Regions from separate parts of the Homo sapiens genome. Here region 1 is linked to region 2. Evidence: fine-mapped expression QTL. A gene starts in region 2. The other region holds a variant in brackets. All regions are shown on one strand. Distances are between the middles of the regions.

Region 1 (9,377 bases), 40 kb before region 2:
GGGAGGCCAAGGCGGGCGGATCACGAGGTCAGGAGATCGAGACCATCCTGGCTAACACGGTGAAGCCCCGTCTCTACTAAAAAAATACAAAAAATTAGCCCGCGTGGTGGCAAGCGCCTATAGTCCCAGCTACTTGGGAGGCTGAGGCGAGATCATCGCTTGAACCCGGGAGGCGGAGGTTGCAGTGAGCCGAGATTGCGCCACTGCACTTCAGCCTGGGCAACAGAGTGAGACTCCGCCTCAAAAAAAAAAAAAAAAATATATATATATATGTATACACACACATATATATACATACACATATAAATTAGCTGGGCGTGGTGGCGCACGCCTGTAATCCCAGCTATTTAGGAGGCTGAGGCAGGCGAATTGCTTGAACCTGGGAGGCGGAGGTTTCAGTGAGCCGAGATCACACCACTGCACTCCAGCCTGGGCGACAAGAGTAAAACTCTGTCTCAAAATAAATAAATAAATAAATAAATAAATAACTTAATTTTAGAATTCATCTTCCAAATATATTTTACACAGATCATTCATTCATTCCACAGATTTTTTTACAGCATCGAAAAGAAGCCTGCTATACACACATCGGTACATTTTTATTATTTTAATTATTAACAGCATAAATGTTTTCATGCCAGTTTTCATAATCATTGTAATGATAATTGTCATGATTGTCTCTCCGTGGCGGGGAAGAATCTGGGTGCAGGGCTTGGGGATCCCTGCGGTCCGCGGCGTGCAAGTGCCACTCCCTGGGGTGCTCCCGGAATCCGCGAGCCACGGAACCTAAGAACGCCGACCCGCCGGAGCCGGAGGGCAGACGCTGGCACACCGGACGCGGGGACGCCAGAAGCGGCTGGACCCGGAAATAGGGGTTGTCGGTAGCCGCCCCGGGAACAAGGACCGGAGCTGGATCCGCGGTGCGGCTGTGGGTGAGCGGCGGGCTGCGGGACCCTCGCCCGGCGGCTCAGAAAGGCGGGAAGCGCACGCATTTTTCTGGCTTGTTTCCTGAACGTTGGCCGGCGGAGGACCCGCGAGCTCGGGAGAGCGCCCGGGCCGGGCTCTGCATTCTTGTTGCCTCTTCCCTGGCGGGGGTGATACTCTCCCGCGGGGCTTGCTGTGGGGGTTCAGGGAGGTGGAGATGGGCCCGCCATGTGCCTGCAGGGAGCAGGCGCTGTGGTTAATACTTTTCTTCTTCGAACCCTCCCACAGCTCTTTAGGGTGAGATCTGCTGTACCAGTCTCACAGGTAGGGAAACTGAGGCTCAGGGAAGCTGTGCAGCCACCGGGGCCCAGATCGGTGCGGTACACACCCAGGCAGCTTCCACTCGCCGCCCCCTAGGCCCTGGCTGGGTTTTGAGGGCACCCAGGTTCTCTGACCTGTTATCTGTAAATGAAGTAGGGTACTTTTGTGAACAAATTAGCTGGAATCCAGGGGCAATAATTTCTCGCAGAAGTGAAAGGTAAGATGTTCCTAGTCTTGCCTTTTTATCTTCTCACCTTTTGAAACAGGACCTGAGAGGCCAGCCTAACTTGGGCTTGATGGCCAGCCAGTCCTGGGATTCTTTTGCCAAGGTCACCTGACACTAGTGTGACTTGTTCTGAACCTCCATTTACTCACAGTTTTAAAAAATTACAACACCTGCCTTATGGGGTTGCTGGCGAGATTGAATAGTGTTGATAGCTATGGTGTGCCTACTACAAAGGAGGAGCTTAAGAAATGGTTGTTTCCCTCTTTTCCTGATTCTAGAAGCATTTGGTAAAGTTACTGAGGTGGTAAATCCTAGGAATTTTAATGCTATTCAGACCACTGCTAGGCCTACTCCCAGGCCACATCTGCTTGTTTCTTTTTTTGTTTGTTTTGTTGCAGGCAGAGTCTCACTCTGTCACCCAGGCTGGAGTGCAGTGGCGCGATCTCAGCTCACTGCAACCTCCGCCCCCGGGTTCAAGTGATTCTCCTGCCTCAGCCTCCTGAGTAGCTGGGATTACAGGCATGCGCCACCACGCCCAGCTAATTTTTGTATTTTTAGTAGAGACCAGGCTTCACCATGTTGGCCAGGCTGGTCTTGAACTGCTGACCTCGGGTGATCCACCTGCCTCAGCCTCGCAAAGTATTTGCTCACTGTCTATTTACCGTGAGAATGCACAAAGCAAAACCCGTGTTCTCCTGCTGCTTACTTACTTTCTAGGAGCTGTAAGACAAGAGCTGAATAAGTAGATGGAAGCTGTACCAAGTGTAGTGATGAGTGCTACAAGGAAGCAAAGCTGGGCTGCTGTTCCATCAGAGTGCTCACAGAGGCAGGACAGGATCAGGCTTGGGGCACGGGTTCTAGAACAACCAAGTCCAGCCACTGGAGCTCTGGTCTCTCTGACCCCACAGTCCCAGTCTAGGCCAATAAAATGGCAGCACCTATTAGCATCCCTGCCTAGGATGCTGGCAGGACTGCCTGGTCCCTGGTGTGTCCTCATTATGTCATACATAATTGCTGACTACTCTGTGGCATAGACATGAGAAAATCTGAGGAAACATTTTAGGACAAAATTTCCTACTTTGGAAGAGATGGGAAACTCAGACCCTCACAGAACAATGCCCCTCTGCTGCGAGTTTTCCCTTTTGGCCTCTGGCTTCCCAGGGTGAGAGAAGGGGAGTCCCTAAATCTCTTTTAAACCTCACTTCTGGGCCTCTGATTTTGGTAGAATCAAAACTTCCCCAGAACGGAGAGCAGAGGCCAGTCATAATCACCTTGGTTGTTCATTCATTCCCTCAGCAGGCATTTAGTGCATGCTGGGTGCCAGAAATATGGCAATGAACCTGACAATTGTGGGAGAGACAGACTGCTGACGCCAGATGCAGTCTTCAGGAGGGGAGGGGCAGGGGTCAGAGCAAGTAGACTAAGGGGGAAAAGTGGCCTAGGCCGAAGCCTGCTGGCGCACAGGGAGGAAAGGTGGGTGCGCAGCAGAGCCTTGGGAGATGCAGCTGGAGCTGTCATGGGCCAGAGAGCTCATCTGCAGACAGTGTCGTCATTCCACAAGGCCTCGGCTCTTTCACTGTGGGATGGTTGTACATTTAAGGGGAACATCCACTTACTTATTTTGAGGAAAAAAGCAAATTGTCATTTTATTTGGGACAGCTTTCTGGTCAAGATTACTGATTTCACTGTAGTCCTGTGATCTCTTAAGTGGGGAACAAGGTTGACAGCCCAAGGCCGACCTTGGACCTCTTCCCCTGCACAGCATGATGAGCAGCAGAAGCCCCTTTAGTGAGGGAGTTCCTTTGGCATCCTTTCTGAACAATGCCCTTTACAACCCTCCTTTATTTTTCTGGTTTTATTGTAAAGTCCCTTGTCTTAGTTCTTGTCCCTCAGTCACCTGTGTCCAGGCGCTAAATGTAAAAGGTGCAAAAGGGAATGTGGTGAGGAGGCACCCCCAGCCCTGACCTCCAGGCCCTAACACCCACTCCAGGTGATTGCTTGGACTGTTTGTTTTGCGTTCCATCCAGACATATCGCCTCTTCATAATCAAGTGCACACGTGTGCACACATATGTGTGATCACAGATGGCAGTGCTCTCTACACACCGTTACATGCCCAGCTTTCTTAGCATGATTTATTTCAGTGATCTGATCCACGTTAGTATGTACCAAGCAGATGCTTTCCTTTGTAATGCTGCCAGGTGCTCTACTGTAGAGAATGCCATGCTTTTTTTTTTTTTTTTTTTTTTTGGAGATGGAGTCTCACTCTGTCGCCCAGGCTGGAGTGCAGTGGCGCAATCTCGGCTCACTGCAAGCTCCGCTTCCCGGGTTCACACCATTCTCCTGCCTCAGCCTCCCGAGTAGCTGGGACTACAGGCGCCTGCCACCATGCCCAGCTAATTTTTAGTATTTTTAGTAGAGACGGGGTTTCACCACGTTAGTCAGGATGGTCTTGATCTCCTGACCTCGTGATCTGCCCACCTTGGCCTCCCAAAGTGCTGGGATTACAGGCGTGAGCCACCGCGCCCGGCCAGAGAATGCCATGCTTTTATTTAACCACCTCCCTGTTGACAGACACCAGCTTGTTTCTAACCTTTTATCATGATTGATAATGCTGCAGAGAACTCCCCAGTGATGTGGTTCATCACAGGCACCACCGTGCCCAGCCTGAGGCCACTCCAGCGCTGCCCTGTCCTACCTCCTGGGGACTCAGAGTCCACATGGACAGTCTTGTCAGGGCCCACCACTGACTCCTGTGAGTCTCCCCAGGTGACTTCACTCTCTACCTGTCTCACAGCCCTTGCCCTCCCTGGGTCAGCATGCCACCACCCAGGCCCCTCTGTAATTCCTGTTTGAGCCTCCCACCCTCTGGGAGTTGCTTCTTTGACTCCCACTTCCTGCTCTTGTGCCTCACTTCCTGGACCCC[A/G]CAGAGCACACCCTCTGTGGACCCTCCCCAACCCTCACCTCCCTCTTCACCCAACTCAGAGTCAGGTTCTGTCCTTGTAATCTCTCCCCTCGAACCCTGACCCACTCCCTCTCCCTCCTACTCACCTGGACTCTCCCATCTAACTAAATCCAGTGCTTCCTCTGCTGTGGGCCTGCCCGCAGCATCACCACCTGTCCTCCCTCAGTGGACAGCCGTACCATGCCTCCTCCTCCACCAAGAGAAGTGCAGCCTTGTGGCAGCTCTGCATCGCCTGGATGCTGACCGGCTGCCTCTCTTGCCCCTCACCCTCCCAAGGCCATCACTGCAGCAGTTCCTTCCCCTCCGGCACGCAGCTTCTCTTTTCCTTCTCGCCAGAGCAGTCCCATCAGCGGAGAACATGCTGGCACAGCCACCATCCTGAAACAAGAGGGGACAGTGCACCAGCCTTCTCCCATCTCCCAGGTTTTGTTGAGCTCACCCCATGCAGCTTTCATCTGTCACTCACCACATGGCCCCATCAGGATTACCCAGGGCTCTGTTTGCCAGACCCTACAGTCAGGTCTCAGCTGCCATCTCGCCTGGCCTGTCAGTGTCCCCCACATGGTGATAACTGCCCTGAAGTGCTCTTTCCTGTGGCTTTCAGGACCTTACCCCTCCTGACTCACCCTGCTAGCTCCTCATCTCCCGACCCCCAGCCTGGGCTCCTTCCACATTGCTGCCACCTCCTCCAGGCCACCCAGGCTGTCCAATGGGCAGGTCCCGTTTAACACACCTGAAGTCCCACATCAGACTGCCAGTCCCTTCCTGTCATGCCTAAGCCAAAGCCATGGGTTGTTCCTTTTGCTTTTTTGTAAAGATGAGGTCTCATTGTGTTAATCAGGCTCTTCTCAAACTCCTGGCCTCAAGTGGTCCTCTTGCCTTCGCCTCCCAAAGCACTAGGATTATAGGTGTGAGCCCATGGCAGGTGTGAGCCCATGCCCAGCTCTGCCTCAGGTCATTCTTGACTCACCTTCCCCTCCCCCTCCCATGTCCCGCCATCCCAGGTCTGCCTGGATTCTGACTTCCCTCGCATCCTCCACCACTGCTACCCAGGGCCCATTCATCCTCTTCTATGTGGCAGCCAGAGAGGTCCCTTTAACACTTGAAGTCAGATTATCCCACACCTATGCAAACCCTCTGCTGCCTCCCAGCACCCCTAGAGCAGACCCACATTCTACACCCCTGCTCCCTCCCTCAGCCCCATGAGCCCCCCTGCCCAGCCATATCCTCCCCAAGGACCTCACCTTCCCTGCTCCTTCTGCCTGGACTCTTCTCCCAGGTGTCACCCAGCCCTGCCCTGTCCCTCCCCTGCTCCCATACTACAGCATGAGTTCTGGGAGGGCAGGACCTGGTGTTGCTTTGTGCTGTATTCCCTGCATCCTGGACTAGGCCAAGCATGCAGTAGGTACTCAATAAATAACTGGACTATTAAGTTCATTCCAAGGAGTGGAATTGCTGGGATGTGCACTCGGACTTTGAGAGGGATCCCTGAATTGCTGCACATAGAGGTTGTTCCCATTTAACTTCCCCATGCCCTCATCTGCTGTGTGTGCAACGACTTTGAGTCTCTCCCTATGTGATAAGCACAAGCTCATTGTAGTTCTGAGTTTCTTCTGCGAGTGTTGTTGGACATGATGTGATACCACAAAGGTACTTACGTGGTGGTTTTCCCTTTTTTTTTTTTTTTTTTTTTTGTTTGAGATGGAGTCTCACTCTGTTGTACAAGCTGGAGTGCAATAGCATGATCTCGGCTCACTGCAACCTCCACTTCCTGAGTTCGAGCGATTCTCATGCCTCAGCCTCCCAAGCAGCTGGGATTATAGGCACCCACCACCACACCCAGCTAATTTTTGTATTTTTATTAGAGATGGGGTTTTGCCATGTTGGCCAGGCTGGTCTTGAACTCCTGACCTCAAGTGGTCCACCCACCTCAGCCTCCCAAAGTGCTGGGATACAGGCGTGAGCCACTGTGCCCATCTAGGTGGTAGTTTTTCTTTATGCTGAGATTATTTTATTTTGCTTTTACTTTTTTTGAGACAGGGTCTTGCTGTCACCTAGGCTGGAGTGAAGTGGCTGTTCTATCCACAGGTGCAGTCATGGCACACAACAGCCTTGAATTCCTGGCCTCAAGCAAGCGATCCTCTTGCCTCAGCCTCCTGAGTGGCTGACACTATAGGCATGTGCTACCACACCTGGCTTGTGAGATTTATTTTAAAAGCACATGTTTTTCCTAATATTTTCTGGTTTCATTGTTTCTACTCAAACCTTTGCTAGATCTGGAATCGGTTTTAGTGGGATTTAGGAAGCAGGAGTCTAACTTTATTTTTTTTCACAGCAGATTTCCCAGTTGTCTCAATACGAGTCTTTTTTTTCTTTTTTAATACGGTGCTATGTTTATAAACATCAGTGCTACATTTATAATGACTGAAAAAACAAAAAGGGTTCATGTGGTTTTCTTTTACTTGGCTAGCAGGTATTGAATGTCATGTGTCAGGCACAGAAAGCTGTTGCAAAGACCAACAGTGATTCAGACACAAAGCCCATCGTGTCCTATTTTGGGGGTGAAGTAGTCGCTGATGATGGCATGATGTGAGTGGGTTGGAATGGAGACCTAGCCCAAGAGCTGTGGGCACAGGAGGGCTGACTTACCCTGCCAGTGGTGTTGGGAGACTTGAGCTGGGCCTGTGGGCCATCCAGCTGCATCCTCCAGGCCTGGCGGAGCTTTCTCTCAGGCAGGGAAGCGCAGGCACAGAGGCTTCAAGTGCGTGTTTGCTTCGATGATGATATTTGATTTAATTTGGCCAGAGCATGACCTGCAAAGCAAAAGGTGGAGTGGAATAGGTGGGAGATAGATGTGACAGAGTCCTGATGTCTGCTTGGGGCTGGACCGACTAGCCAGAGGGTCTCAGGCCCATCATGGATCAGAAGGACCTGGGGGGCCCAGCCTGGGCATCTGCATTTTGTAAAGTGTCCTGGGGCGTCCAAGTGCTTTGCTGAGCGGGAGGTGCTGCTCTCGGCCACGATAGTTCCTCTTTCCAGGTGAGTCCACCTGTAGGTGGAAGAGCCAGTCCAGAGAGGAGGGCCAGGCATCCACCTGGCCTGACCCATCACTCCAGATCCCCAGGCCCCAGCATCTTCCTAGCATGGATTTAGGAATAAAATTGACCTGAGATCACTGGGGCCACTTCACCTTCCCCCAAATGGAGCCACATTCCCAGGATCATCTCAGCCACTTCAGCTGACCTGGTAGTTTTTTCTTGTTTTTAATCTCAGATGTCTTCAAGTTTCCCTAATTCCCTAATTTTTCTTCTTCTTGCCTCAGGTTGGTCTTGTTTTTTCTTTGTTAAAGTGATTTTCCTTGTAGTGGTGTAGGTTCTATTGACAGCATTGCTATCCTGAGTGTCTTTTCTTCTCTTTAGGAGTCAGCATTGGTAATAGTGCTGTGCTGCGGAAGAGTGGAGTCTAAACTTTTTCATTGCCAGTGCCCCGAAACTGGAGTGTGAAGGACCGAGACAAAATGAAGACTGTGCTCATGGTTGCTGAAAAGCCGTCCTTGGCACAGTCAATTGCCAAAATCCTCTCTAGAGGTAGGAGAGACCAGCCCTGCTTTGGTCTGTAAGCACGGTCGTTTATGTGTTACAGGACATTTTTTCCTAATGTGATTCCACCCTGGCTGGGGTAGATTTGGTTCGGGTCGGCAGGTGGTAATGAAGCATCTCAGTATGTCACAGTGGGGTGCATTTGCTTCCACTCCTGGCAATGTGCCAAAGCTGGGGTTCCCATAAGGCACAAGGCACAATTTACAATGAAATTGAAGGACAGTCATTATCCATATGCTGGGCCTGGTGGGGCTATTAGGTACAGGTAGTAGAAACCAGCCCTGGAAGGAAGGAGACGCAGCCAGGACTACACCCCAGTCAAGGTCTGATGAGGCTATGCCCCAGGCATTGTCACCCCTGGATACTCCCACTGTCCTGTGGACCTCACGTCACTCCAGAGTAGCCAATGGACTGAGCTATGGCCACAGGCACTACTGAGACACCAGGGAGCTCGAGAGGGAATGTCTGCCACTCACCCCCAACTCTGGCCACTGGGGTGGTTGGTAGGGTGCTGTTTCCCCCTATCTTTGAATTCCCTCCAAATAGGAAGAGTTTTAGATGCTGGGTACCCAGAAATGACAGGCACCTACCTGGCCTCCCCTTGGTCCAGCAGTTGAGAGGGGAAGAGACCCTCGTTCAGCTGAGAAGGCATGGTCCGCAGGGGACGGTGCCCCAAAAGTGGTGCCCGGTGCCCAGAAGCTGAGAAAGTACAGCTGAGTATGGTCAGTGGAGAGGGTGAGAATTCGATAATTAGAAGGTCCCTGGTAACCGAGAGTAGATCTGGAGTCTGTTTTAGTAAACGATGAATAACGTTTCAATGAAGTGAGGCAAAAATGGAATTGAAGAGTGAAAACATAAATACAGAGAAAGAGCCCACCCCTGCCTGCTCCTGGCTCCCGGCAGCCTGGGGCTCTGCATCGAGAGTGCTCTGTGCTAGGTTGTTGGCAGATGCTGTTTTCCCTGAGCGCCGTCCCACCTCTCAGTGCCCAACTACCCGCACCAGTCTGCGGAATGTCGTCACTCACCACTCTGGGGAAGGAGGACTCTGGCCCTCTGGGAGGTGGCATCCGGGCTGGGGTCTCCACAGGGTCTTCAGCTCAGCTGAAGCAGCCAGTCACTTTGTGCTTCCTCATCCCCAGGGAGCCTGTCCTCACACAAAGGGCTGAACGGGGCCTGCTCAGTCCACGAGTACACTGGGACCTTTGCTGGCCAGCCAGTGCGCTTCAAGATGACGTCTGTCTGTGGTCACGTGATGACCCTGGATTTCCTGGGTAAGCCCCTCTACCCTCCATCCTACTGAAGGGAGTTCTGCATGGCACTGGCCAGGGTCCAGTTGAAGCCAG
Region 2 (9,377 bases):
GAGGGCCTGGAGGGCTGAGGAGTGAGTAGGCAGTGCAGGTGACCTGCCCAGGAGGGCCCCGAACCAAAGTGTTGGGGTCAGTGCTGGGGGCGCAGGGGAGGGCAGTGGGTTTTGGTTTTGATGCGAGAGCAGCCAGACTTGTTGAGCGGCTGCTGTGTGAGCCACCTAGTGATGGGTGCGAGCAGGAGGGGTGCAGAGCTCCCGAGTCTCCTCAGCCCCCAGGAACCCACCTTACATGGTGAACTAAAATGGAGTATTTGAAGTTGTTATATGTTCCAGCCATCTTATTGGATTTATTTTTTAAGTTATTTTTGTTCTTTTCTAGCATCTTCTTTCACACGCAGGTGTGGATGTGCATAGGTGTAGTCAGCACTTGGGGTCTGAGCCTCACACGTTGTCTACACTAAGCCTGGCTGTCCACACACACGCACTCACATGTGCCCATACACAGTCACGAGTTCCACCTCCGAGCTCTGCTTCCCGTGTCCCAGCCTGAGGAGGGGCTCTTGGGCATGAAGGGCTTTGAGCATCTTGGTCCCTGAGCTCTTTCACAGACCGTAAAAGGCATCCTTCTGGAGGCCATCCAGGAGTCAGAACATCCAGTCCACAGGGGGCTATTTACGCCTTGTCTCCGCTCTTGTTTGGAGCCTCCTGTCACATATTTGAGTCCCTGAGCAGTGCATACCGTACACTAATGATTTGAGTGTGGTTTTTGTCTCTGCCACTAGACTATAAGCCTCTTGTAACAGCCCCTGCCCCAAGGTCGGTGAGACGTGTTTCTCAGGCACCTGGGCCTTGCATACACCTTGGCTTGTCCCTGGAGCATCTTCTTGCCTTGTGTAGGAGCCTGCTCTGCAGGGACCAGAATCAGGGTGGATCTGCATGGTGCAGTGACTCAGGGCTGAGGGCCTCTAGGGCGTGTCCCAGGCCAGACCCTGGGATGAGGCGGGAGCTGTGTCCAGGAAGAGGACGATGGTGGCCCTTGGCCAGGCATTGTCTGGGTCCCCACAGCCGGAAACTGCCTCCCTGCCCCAGCAGCAGTGGCGGGTGGGCAGGAAGCTGAGGCCTGGCCTCACCGGGACCAAGGGAAACAGGCGTCCTTCCTCCCTGCTGTGCAAAAGGAAAACCCAGCAGTTGGCAGGAAACCCCCAAATGGCAGAGGAACTAATTTCTCATGTCTTGGCTGGTTGTTTTTCAAAGGCAGTTCCAGAGGCTTCTCCCATGAGTCACCCTTTCATTTTAAAAATCACGAATCTGCTGAGCATGGTGGCTCATGCCTGTAATCCCAGCTACTCAGGAGGCTGAGGCAGGAGAATCACTTGAACCCGAGAGGTGGAGGTTGTGGTGAGCTGAGATCACGCCATTGCACTCCAGCCTGGGCAACTAGAGCGAAACTCCGTCTCAGAAAAAAAAAAAAAAAAATCAGGAATCCATCCCGGTAGATTCCTCAGACCATCAGTAGATACCTTGGGTGCCCAGCCCCCATGGAACAAGACCTGTCAGCCTGTGCTGTTGGAAGGTCCTCGCCTTCCAGTTAAAGCCGGGAGTGTCGGCCCAGTGCAGAATCACCTCGCCACCCCAGGCATGCTCCCCTGACCCCCACTCTCAGGGACAGGCACACAGGGGTGAATGTGTGTTGTCCAGCTTCCAGGGCCCCCACTGGGTGAGAAGGCAGATTCCAGGGGTCAAAATGCATGTTAGAGGCCATAGGGCCACTGAGGGAGCGACCCCTTCTGCCCAGAAAAGCCAGGGATGGCTCAGAATTTTAGACACTCCTCCCCACTGCCCTCCTTCTCAGCCACAGATGGCTTCAGTGTTTCTTTCCCTGATCTGCCCCGTGGCTCTCTTCTGCCCTGCCTACCTGCTAAAAGACGCTAACCCTCCTGTCGGTTTGCTTTCAGCCTGCTGCGACCTCCCTTTCTACCCACTACGCCTCCTCAACTGCTCAGCTCTGTTCTATGACATTGAAAGCAGTGACCCAATCTCACTTCTTAAAACATTTCCTTCGTGGCACCCAGAAGGCCACTCCTGGAGTCATCCCCACTTTGCTAGCCATGCTCTGGCCCTGTGGGACTCAGCCCCCTATCCTCATTCATTCCGCAGCTCCATCTCCTGCCCAGACCATGTTCTTGCAGGCCCTCAGGCCTCTTGACCTCCGTGGAACACAAGTCGCTGTGGAAACAGAGCCCATTGCCCATCCCCTGCCTGACTCTTCCATCCCCATCAGGGTAATTAACTGTACCACGAGCCTTCTAGTTGCTCAGAATAGAAACTTCAACACTGTCCCTGCCCCTCCATTTATACTGCCCGACTCTGTCTGCTCCTGTTTGTCACCATGGCCCTGCCCAGCCCAGGTCTTAGACTCTCTCCTTTAGACAGTCGTCCCCTTCTTGCCAGCCCACCCTCCACACCAGGGTCAGAGAGGCCTAAAAGCCCCATCTGATCATGCCATGTCCCTCTTCAAACAGACCAAAGGCGGCCAGGTGTGGCGGCTCACGCCATTATCCCAGGGCTTTGGGAGGCTGAGATGGGAGGATCACTTGAGGGCAGGAGTTCAAGACCAGCCTGGACAACATAGCAAAACCCCACCTGTACAAAAAAATTTACAGATTAGCTGGACATGGTGATGTCTGTAGCCCTAACTACTGCCTGTAGCCCTAACTACTCTGGAGTCTGAGGTGAGAGGATCTCTTGAGCCCAGGGGTTTGAGGCTGCAGCGAGCCATGATTGCACAGCTGTGCTCCAGCCTGGGAGACAGAGCAAGACCCTGTCTCTAAAAATAAATAAATAAAACACAGACCAATGGCAGTGCTTCCCTGTTAGCATAAAGCTTGGCCTGCCCTGTTCCCACAGCCCCTCACCCCGGCAGCTCCTATGGCCCCATCCGCCCAGGGACCTTGTGGACCACGCACAGCCACTTCCTCTGCTGAGTGTGCCCATGGGTCCCACACCCCAGGATCAGCTTCCTGGAGCTGCTGTACAAATGACCACAGACCCAGCAGCTTAAACAACAGAAGTGTGCTTCATGGTGCTGGAGGCTGTCATCTGAGATCAGGATATTGACAGAACTGGCTCCTTCTGGTGGTTTGTGGGCAACCCTTGGCATTCCCTGGCTTGTAGGTTCATCCCCCAGGTCTCTGCCTCATGTTCCCCTGGCATTCTCTCTGTGTGTGTGTGTCTGTGTCCAAATTCCTCCCCCAACCTGTTTTTTTTTTTTGGAGACAGCATCTTGCTCTGTCGCCTAGGCTGGAGTGCAGTGGCACAATCTTGGCTCACTGCAACCTCCACCTCCCAGGTTCAAGCAATTCTTCTGCCTCAGCCTCCTGAGTAGCTGGAACTACAGGCATGCGCCACCACACCCGGCTAATTTTTGTATTTTTAGTAGAGATGAGGTTTTACCATGTTGGCCAGGCTGGTCTCAAACTCCTGACCTCGTGATCTACCTGCCTTGGCCTCCCAAAGTACTGGGATTACAGATGTGAGCCACCGCACCCGGCCCAAATTCCCTTTTTCATAGAGACATCAGTCATTGGAGTAGGGGCCCAGCCTGCTCCAGCATGACGTCATCTTAACTAATTCCATCTGTAATGACCCTGTTTCCAAATGAGCTCCATTCTGAGGTACTGGGGGTTAGGGCCTCAGTGTATGAATTTAGGGGGGACACAATTCAACCCAGAACACTCCCCACCCCCCAGGGTCCCCAGCTGGCATGGGTGATTCCTCTGCCCTCCTGTGGCCAGGAGCCATCATCAGCATGGATGTCAGGCAGTTTACTTGCCCATCAACAGCCCCCTCCCAACTAGCCGCAGGCTCAAGTATGGTCCAGCTCCCCACCAGATGGTTGTGCGTCTGCCTTTGCTGTCCTGTGACCTTCCTGTCCCAGCTCCCTGAGGACAGGGGCCGCCCTGCTGGCCGTGACCCCTCAGCATGTGGGCTGACAGTTGGGGAAGGGGGGCTAGGTGTGGTCTCCTGCTGGGGGCTGCCCCTCACTTCCCCCTCCTCATCCCTAGGAAGGCCCCGCCACCACTTGCTGCTGCTCTGGCCCACGAAGCAGTTTCACAGCTGCTACAGACAGACCTTTCCGAATTCAGGAAGTTGCCCAGGGAGGAAGAAGAAGAGGAGGAGGACGATGACGAGGAGGAAAAGGCCCCTGTGACCTGTGAGTTCTGTTTCTTCTGAGGTGGCCCCAGGGCTGCTTAGCAGGCAACAAAGGGTGACGACATTGTGGGAAGCCCATTGATTGGGGTCCCTAAGGGTGCTGGGGCCCTCGCTCACAACGGCAGCAGAATCAAGGAGCAGAGAAGGCTTGCGGCCCCAGTGAGGTGGAGGGTGGCGGTCACAGCCCTCCACAGGTCATATAGTTCCCAGTCAGCCCACGAGGCAGGGGTGGGTGGTGCAGACACCCTCCTGTGTCCTGTCTGACTGAAGTTCCAGAACAGCCCAGGAAATTAAAGATGCTTATCCCGTTTCACAGAGGATCTCACAGGTGATCGATCTCTGGTCATGCAGCCAGGTTCAAGTGCCCTCAGTGTTGTAACTCAGTTAACATGCGCCCGGGCAGGCGAAGTCAGGGTTGGCCAGGTGGCATGCCAGCAGGTCTCGGGGCAGCAGCGTGGTCCCCTCAACGCTCGGGCCCCCTGCCTCAGCTGCCCCCAAGTCAGGATTCTGTTGGGTGGAGACGCTCTACGGTGTCCATGAGCCCCATGGTTAGATGCTGGTGGAAGCTTGTCTGTCAGCCTGCTCCTGGGACAGCCATAAGCATGGTGTGGCCAGGGGAACCCAGAAATGGAGAGGGCTGCAGATCCATTTCACAGAGGATATAATCATTAAAAAGCAGGGCTTTTATTTCATGTGACTTTCTTTCATTCTCCTAGTAATTTCATTTTATTATATTTCGCCAAAGTGTTGGTTGATGTTAGACCAGAAATACAGGGCGTAAGAATCGCAGGCTGCAGCAGGGGTGCCACAAGGGGGTAGCAACGTCCCACCCAGCTGAATAGTTGTCCCTGGACAGGCCAGCAGGCAGCAGAGTTGCAGTGGATTTTCCCTTCCTTGCCATTTCCTGTCGGCCATTTCCTTTCCCTTCCTTTGCCATTTCCTTTCCTTTCCCTGTTGTTCTAAATTCGGCATTACTAGTGCATGCGTGCATCCGGGGAAAAGGAACAAGGTGGGAGAAGAGAGAGAAAGCGAATACCCGAGGCCGCCAGCATCAGTGGGTGCCCGCGCTCTCCTCCTCGCTCTCGTCCTCTGCCCTCCGCCCTGGCTCCCTGCCCGCATTCCCTGGGAGCGCAGCCTTGCCTTAGCCTGGGAGACAGCTGTCCACAGTGACAGGCGGCCATTGTTCTCGGCCGAGCCAGCAGGCTTCCGGCCGGTGGCAGCTGCTGCTCCTCCGCTCTGCGGCCCCACCAAGGGGGCGCCGCCACCGCCCAGGCCCTCCCCGCCTGATGGGTCTCTGTCCGTCCACGCGGGAGACAGCGCCACCTGCCGGTGAGAAGGAGCGTTGCTGCGCCGGCACCAGCCCAGTCCTACGCTCGGGGCTCCTGCAGGCCTGGGAAGGAGGGAGGGCGCAGCTAGAAGGAAGTCTCGCCTGCCCTTGCTTCCCCGTCTGTCAGAGTGCCTCGCATGCAGGCCTGCCTAGCGGCCTTGATCATGCTCTCCCTGTCACGGAAGTAGAATGTAGTCAAGTTTTTGGACTCCAAGCCATTCTTACAAAATTGCGTCAGAGTGGGGATTGTATTATAAGAATTGCCACTGAAGAGCAGCGAGTGGCTGAAACCTCTGTGTGGCTGCCAGTCAGCCCCTCCCCGGTGACTGGATCAGCGAAGAATCCAGAAGCGAGGTTGCGGGGCTGCAGCCCTTGGCATGGGGAGTCCGTGGGCTGGGCAGCACTGCCTCAGCCGCTGGCCTTTCCTGAGCAGAGTCTAGGCTAAGCGGCTGTTGGAAATAGCAGTAGCACCCGGGGCGAGACCGTGAGCCACAGCGGCGGCCGGAGTCTCCCCCAGCCCGAGCTCAGGCCTGGTAAGCACCAGGAGCCCACAGTTTCCAGAGGGAGTGAGGAGGAGTCCATGGCATTTAGGGGCAGTTTTCTGGGCACAGTGGCCCTCAGACGAGAGGAAGAGGAGGCAGCGCTACAAGGACTGGCAGGACGAGGGGGGTTTCCTGCTGGTTTGCAGGGGATCCACTGGCCAAACTTGTGTGGAGCTGCCTTCCCTGAGCTGGGCCTGCCTGAATGAGTTCTCAGGCCCCTCCTTCACCCATAGCCTTGCCAGTCCCCAGTTCTTGCCAAATGCTTGAATAGGCCCCTGTGTTGGCCATGGCGGCAGCAGCTGGCTCTGGATGCCCCCACCCCTGCCTTGATGCATGGATTCCCAAGAACCTGTCTTTCTGTGACCTCCTGCGTGCATAAGCCCTCGCGTTCATGGTTCTTCCTCGGTGGCCCCCTCTGGCCTCAGCCCTTCTCCTTTTCTTCCACAGCCTCCGCCTTTAGGCAGGAGCTCTTTCCTCCTCTCAGTTCCCCATGTCCTTTGGGTGTGGCCTGTGACACTCAACTCCTGCCCTCGGCTGACTGGCCCTGATTCACCATGCTTGCCACATGCACCTGGGCTGGCAGGAGTTCCAGGAGAGTTTGTGCATTGAAGTGACATGAGTCCCTGAAGCCAGAGCCCCCATGGTTTCCTTTGGGCCTGTTACTGGTTGATCTTTTCTTGAGAAGCCAAGCTTAGGTAGGATTTGGGTATTTTTTCTTTTCAAATGAGTATTGTGGCTTATATTATTTGTTGCTACATAACAAATTGCCCCAAATGTAGTGGCTTAAAACAACAGACATTTATTCTCCCAGTTTCTGTGGGTCTGGAATCTGGGAGCAGCTTAGCTGGTTCTGGTCCAGGGTCTCTTACTGGGTTGTGGTGACATGGTTGCTGGCTGGGCTGGAGGGCCTGCTTCCACGGTGGTTTCAACACACGGCCACTGACAGGAGGCCCTGGTCCCGTCCCATGTGGACTCTCCGTGGCGCTGCTTGAGCATCCTCACAGCTCAGATTGAGCGATGAGAGGGAGGGAGGAAGAGAGTGAGAATACACAAGGCGGGAGGCGCAGGGCCTCTTTGTTTCGTAACACCTGAAGCACACGCAGTCACTGCCACTCTTCATCAGAAGCAGCCAGCTCCCACACTCAGCAGTGGGAAGTGAGCTCCACCTCGCAAAAGGGGAAGTCAAAGAATTTGTGGACATGCTTTAAAGCCACTGTCACACGAGACTAACACTTGTAATGAAAAACTGGGGAAGTATTAAGAAAGTGTACTTCAGGAAAAAGCTGTCCGTGGAACTGCCACGTGCAGGCCCACTCTGACACCTTGGTTGTGTGCTGTTCCCGCCTTTTTTTTTTTCTGGCCCTGGTGGTTTTTCATGGACTTGTAGTTAAACTGCATATGTAATTTTCCTTCTTTTTTCACTTAGTATCATGACAGAAGCATTTTACATGCTTATAAACTCTATTAAAATCCATTTTTTAGTTTTCTGTTTTAAGAGACCAGGTCTCCCTCTGTCACCCAGACTGGAATGCAGTGGTGTAATCGGAGATCGCCGTAACCTCGACGTCCTTGGCTCAAGGGATCCTCCTGCCCCAGCCTCCCGAATAGCTGGGAGTAGATATACCACCACACACAGCTAATTTTTTTTGGTTTGGTGTTGTTCATTTGCGACTGAGTTTCGCTCTGTTGTCCAGGCTGGAGTGTAGTGGCTCAATCTTGGCTCACTGCAACCTCTGCCTCCCGGATTCAAGCAATTTTCCTGCCTCAGCCTCCCAAGTAGCTGGGACTACATGTGCATGCCAGCACGCCCAGCTAATTTTTGTATTTTTAGTAGAGACGGGGTTTCACTTTGTTGGTCAGGGTGGTCTCGAACTCCGGACCTCAAGTGATCTGCCTGCCTTTACCTCTCAAAGCGCGGGACTACAGGCATGAGCCATGGCGCCCAGCCTGTTTGTTTTTAAGAGACAAGGTCTCTTTATGTTATCCAGGCTGGTCTTGAACTCCTGACCTCAAGCAGTCCTCCCACCTCAGCCTCTCAAAGTGCTGGGATTACAGGCATGAGCCACTATGCCTGGGCTAGTTTTTTTTAATTAAACTTTTTGTTTTGAGATAATCATAGCTGCACATGCAGTTGTAATAAATAATACAAAGAGATTCCATGTATACTTTACCCAGTTTCCTCCAATGGTAACATTTTGCAAAACTATAATAAAATATCACCACCAGGATCCTAACATGGTCAAAATACAGAGCAGTTCCATCACCAGGATCCCTCCTGTCACCCTTTTAAGGCCACCCTTATACCCCCACCCCTACAGACCCCATCCCTAACCACTGGCAACTACTAATCTTCTCGGCTTCTACCATTTTATTATTTCAAGAACACATATAAATGGAAGCATATGATGTGTAACTTTAGGGGACTGGTTTAATTCTCTGGAGATTAGCCCAGGTTGTTTGATGCATCAGGAGTTCATTCTTTGCCATTCTTGAGTGGTATTCAAAGGTATGGGTCGACCACGGTTTGTTTAACCATTTCCACGTTGAAGGACATCTAGGCTGACTCCAGATTTTGGCTGTTCCAGATAAAGCTGCTATGAACATTTGTGTTCATGTGTTCAAGCTTTTATGTGAACAGCCTTCATTGTTCTGGGATAAGTCCACAGGAGTGCCACGGTGGGGTCGTATGGGAGTTGCATATTTCGTTATGAAAATCATATTTAATAGCAGCTTAATTCTTCATCAAGAGACTAGATCTTTTTTTTTTTTTTTTTTTTTTGAGACAGAGTCTTGCTCTGTCGCCCAGACTGGAGCATAATGGCATGATCTCGGCTCACTGCAACCTCCGCCTCCCAGGTTCAAGCGATTCTCCTGCCTCAGCCTCCCGAGTAGCTGGGATTACAGGCGCCCGCCACCATGCCTGGCTAATTTGTGTATTTTTAGTAGAGACGGGGTTTCACCATGTTGGCTAGGCTGGTCTCGAACTCCTGACCTCGGGTGATCCGCCCACCTCGGCCTCCCAAAGTGCTGGGATTACAGGCGTGAGCCACTGCGCCTGGCCGAGACTAGATCATAATTTAAGTATTATTCCTTTGTCATTGGATATATAGTATTTCTAATTAATGGGCAATTATAAGTGATTCTGTACTTTGTCTTTAAAATTATTTTTGTGTTTCTGATGATTTCTTCAGGGTGGGTTCCCATGAGTAGAGTTGCTCCATGGTGGGATGGGAGACTTCAAGGGGCAAGTTGCCAAACTAGACATTTCTAATTCTGGTAACAGGCTGCCATGTGCGCGTTATTGAGTTGATGTGCTCACAATGCCCCGGGAGGTGATGGGGGCTTTGCAG

Evidence for each region.
Region 1: its variant is fine-mapped to the expression of PPM1F-AS1 in whole blood (TOPMed, PIP above 0.99).

The regions. Positions count from the first base shown.
Region 1 is chr22:21,974,285-21,983,661 of GRCh38, reverse strand. It overlaps TOP3B (DNA topoisomerase III beta), which reads left to right and starts at 875. Exons shown (of 18, transcript NM_001282112.2): 1 at 875-932; 2 at 7,855-8,022; 3 at 9,174-9,305. The coding sequence starts at 7,953. RefSeq lists enhancers at 696-990, 488-1,474, 4,925-5,094. The variant A/G (reference allele first, on the strand shown) is at 4,397.
Region 2 is chr22:21,934,314-21,943,690 of GRCh38, reverse strand. It overlaps PPM1F-AS1 (PPM1F antisense RNA 1), which reads right to left and starts at 5,454. Exons shown (of 2, transcript NR_147620.1): 1 at 4,078-5,454; 2 at 257-2,589. It overlaps PPM1F (protein phosphatase, Mg2+/Mn2+ dependent 1F), which reads left to right. Exons shown (of 8, transcript NM_014634.4): 3 at 4,011-4,159. RefSeq lists enhancers at 3,416-4,222, 4,223-5,030, 5,031-5,837 and a silencer at 5,320-5,479.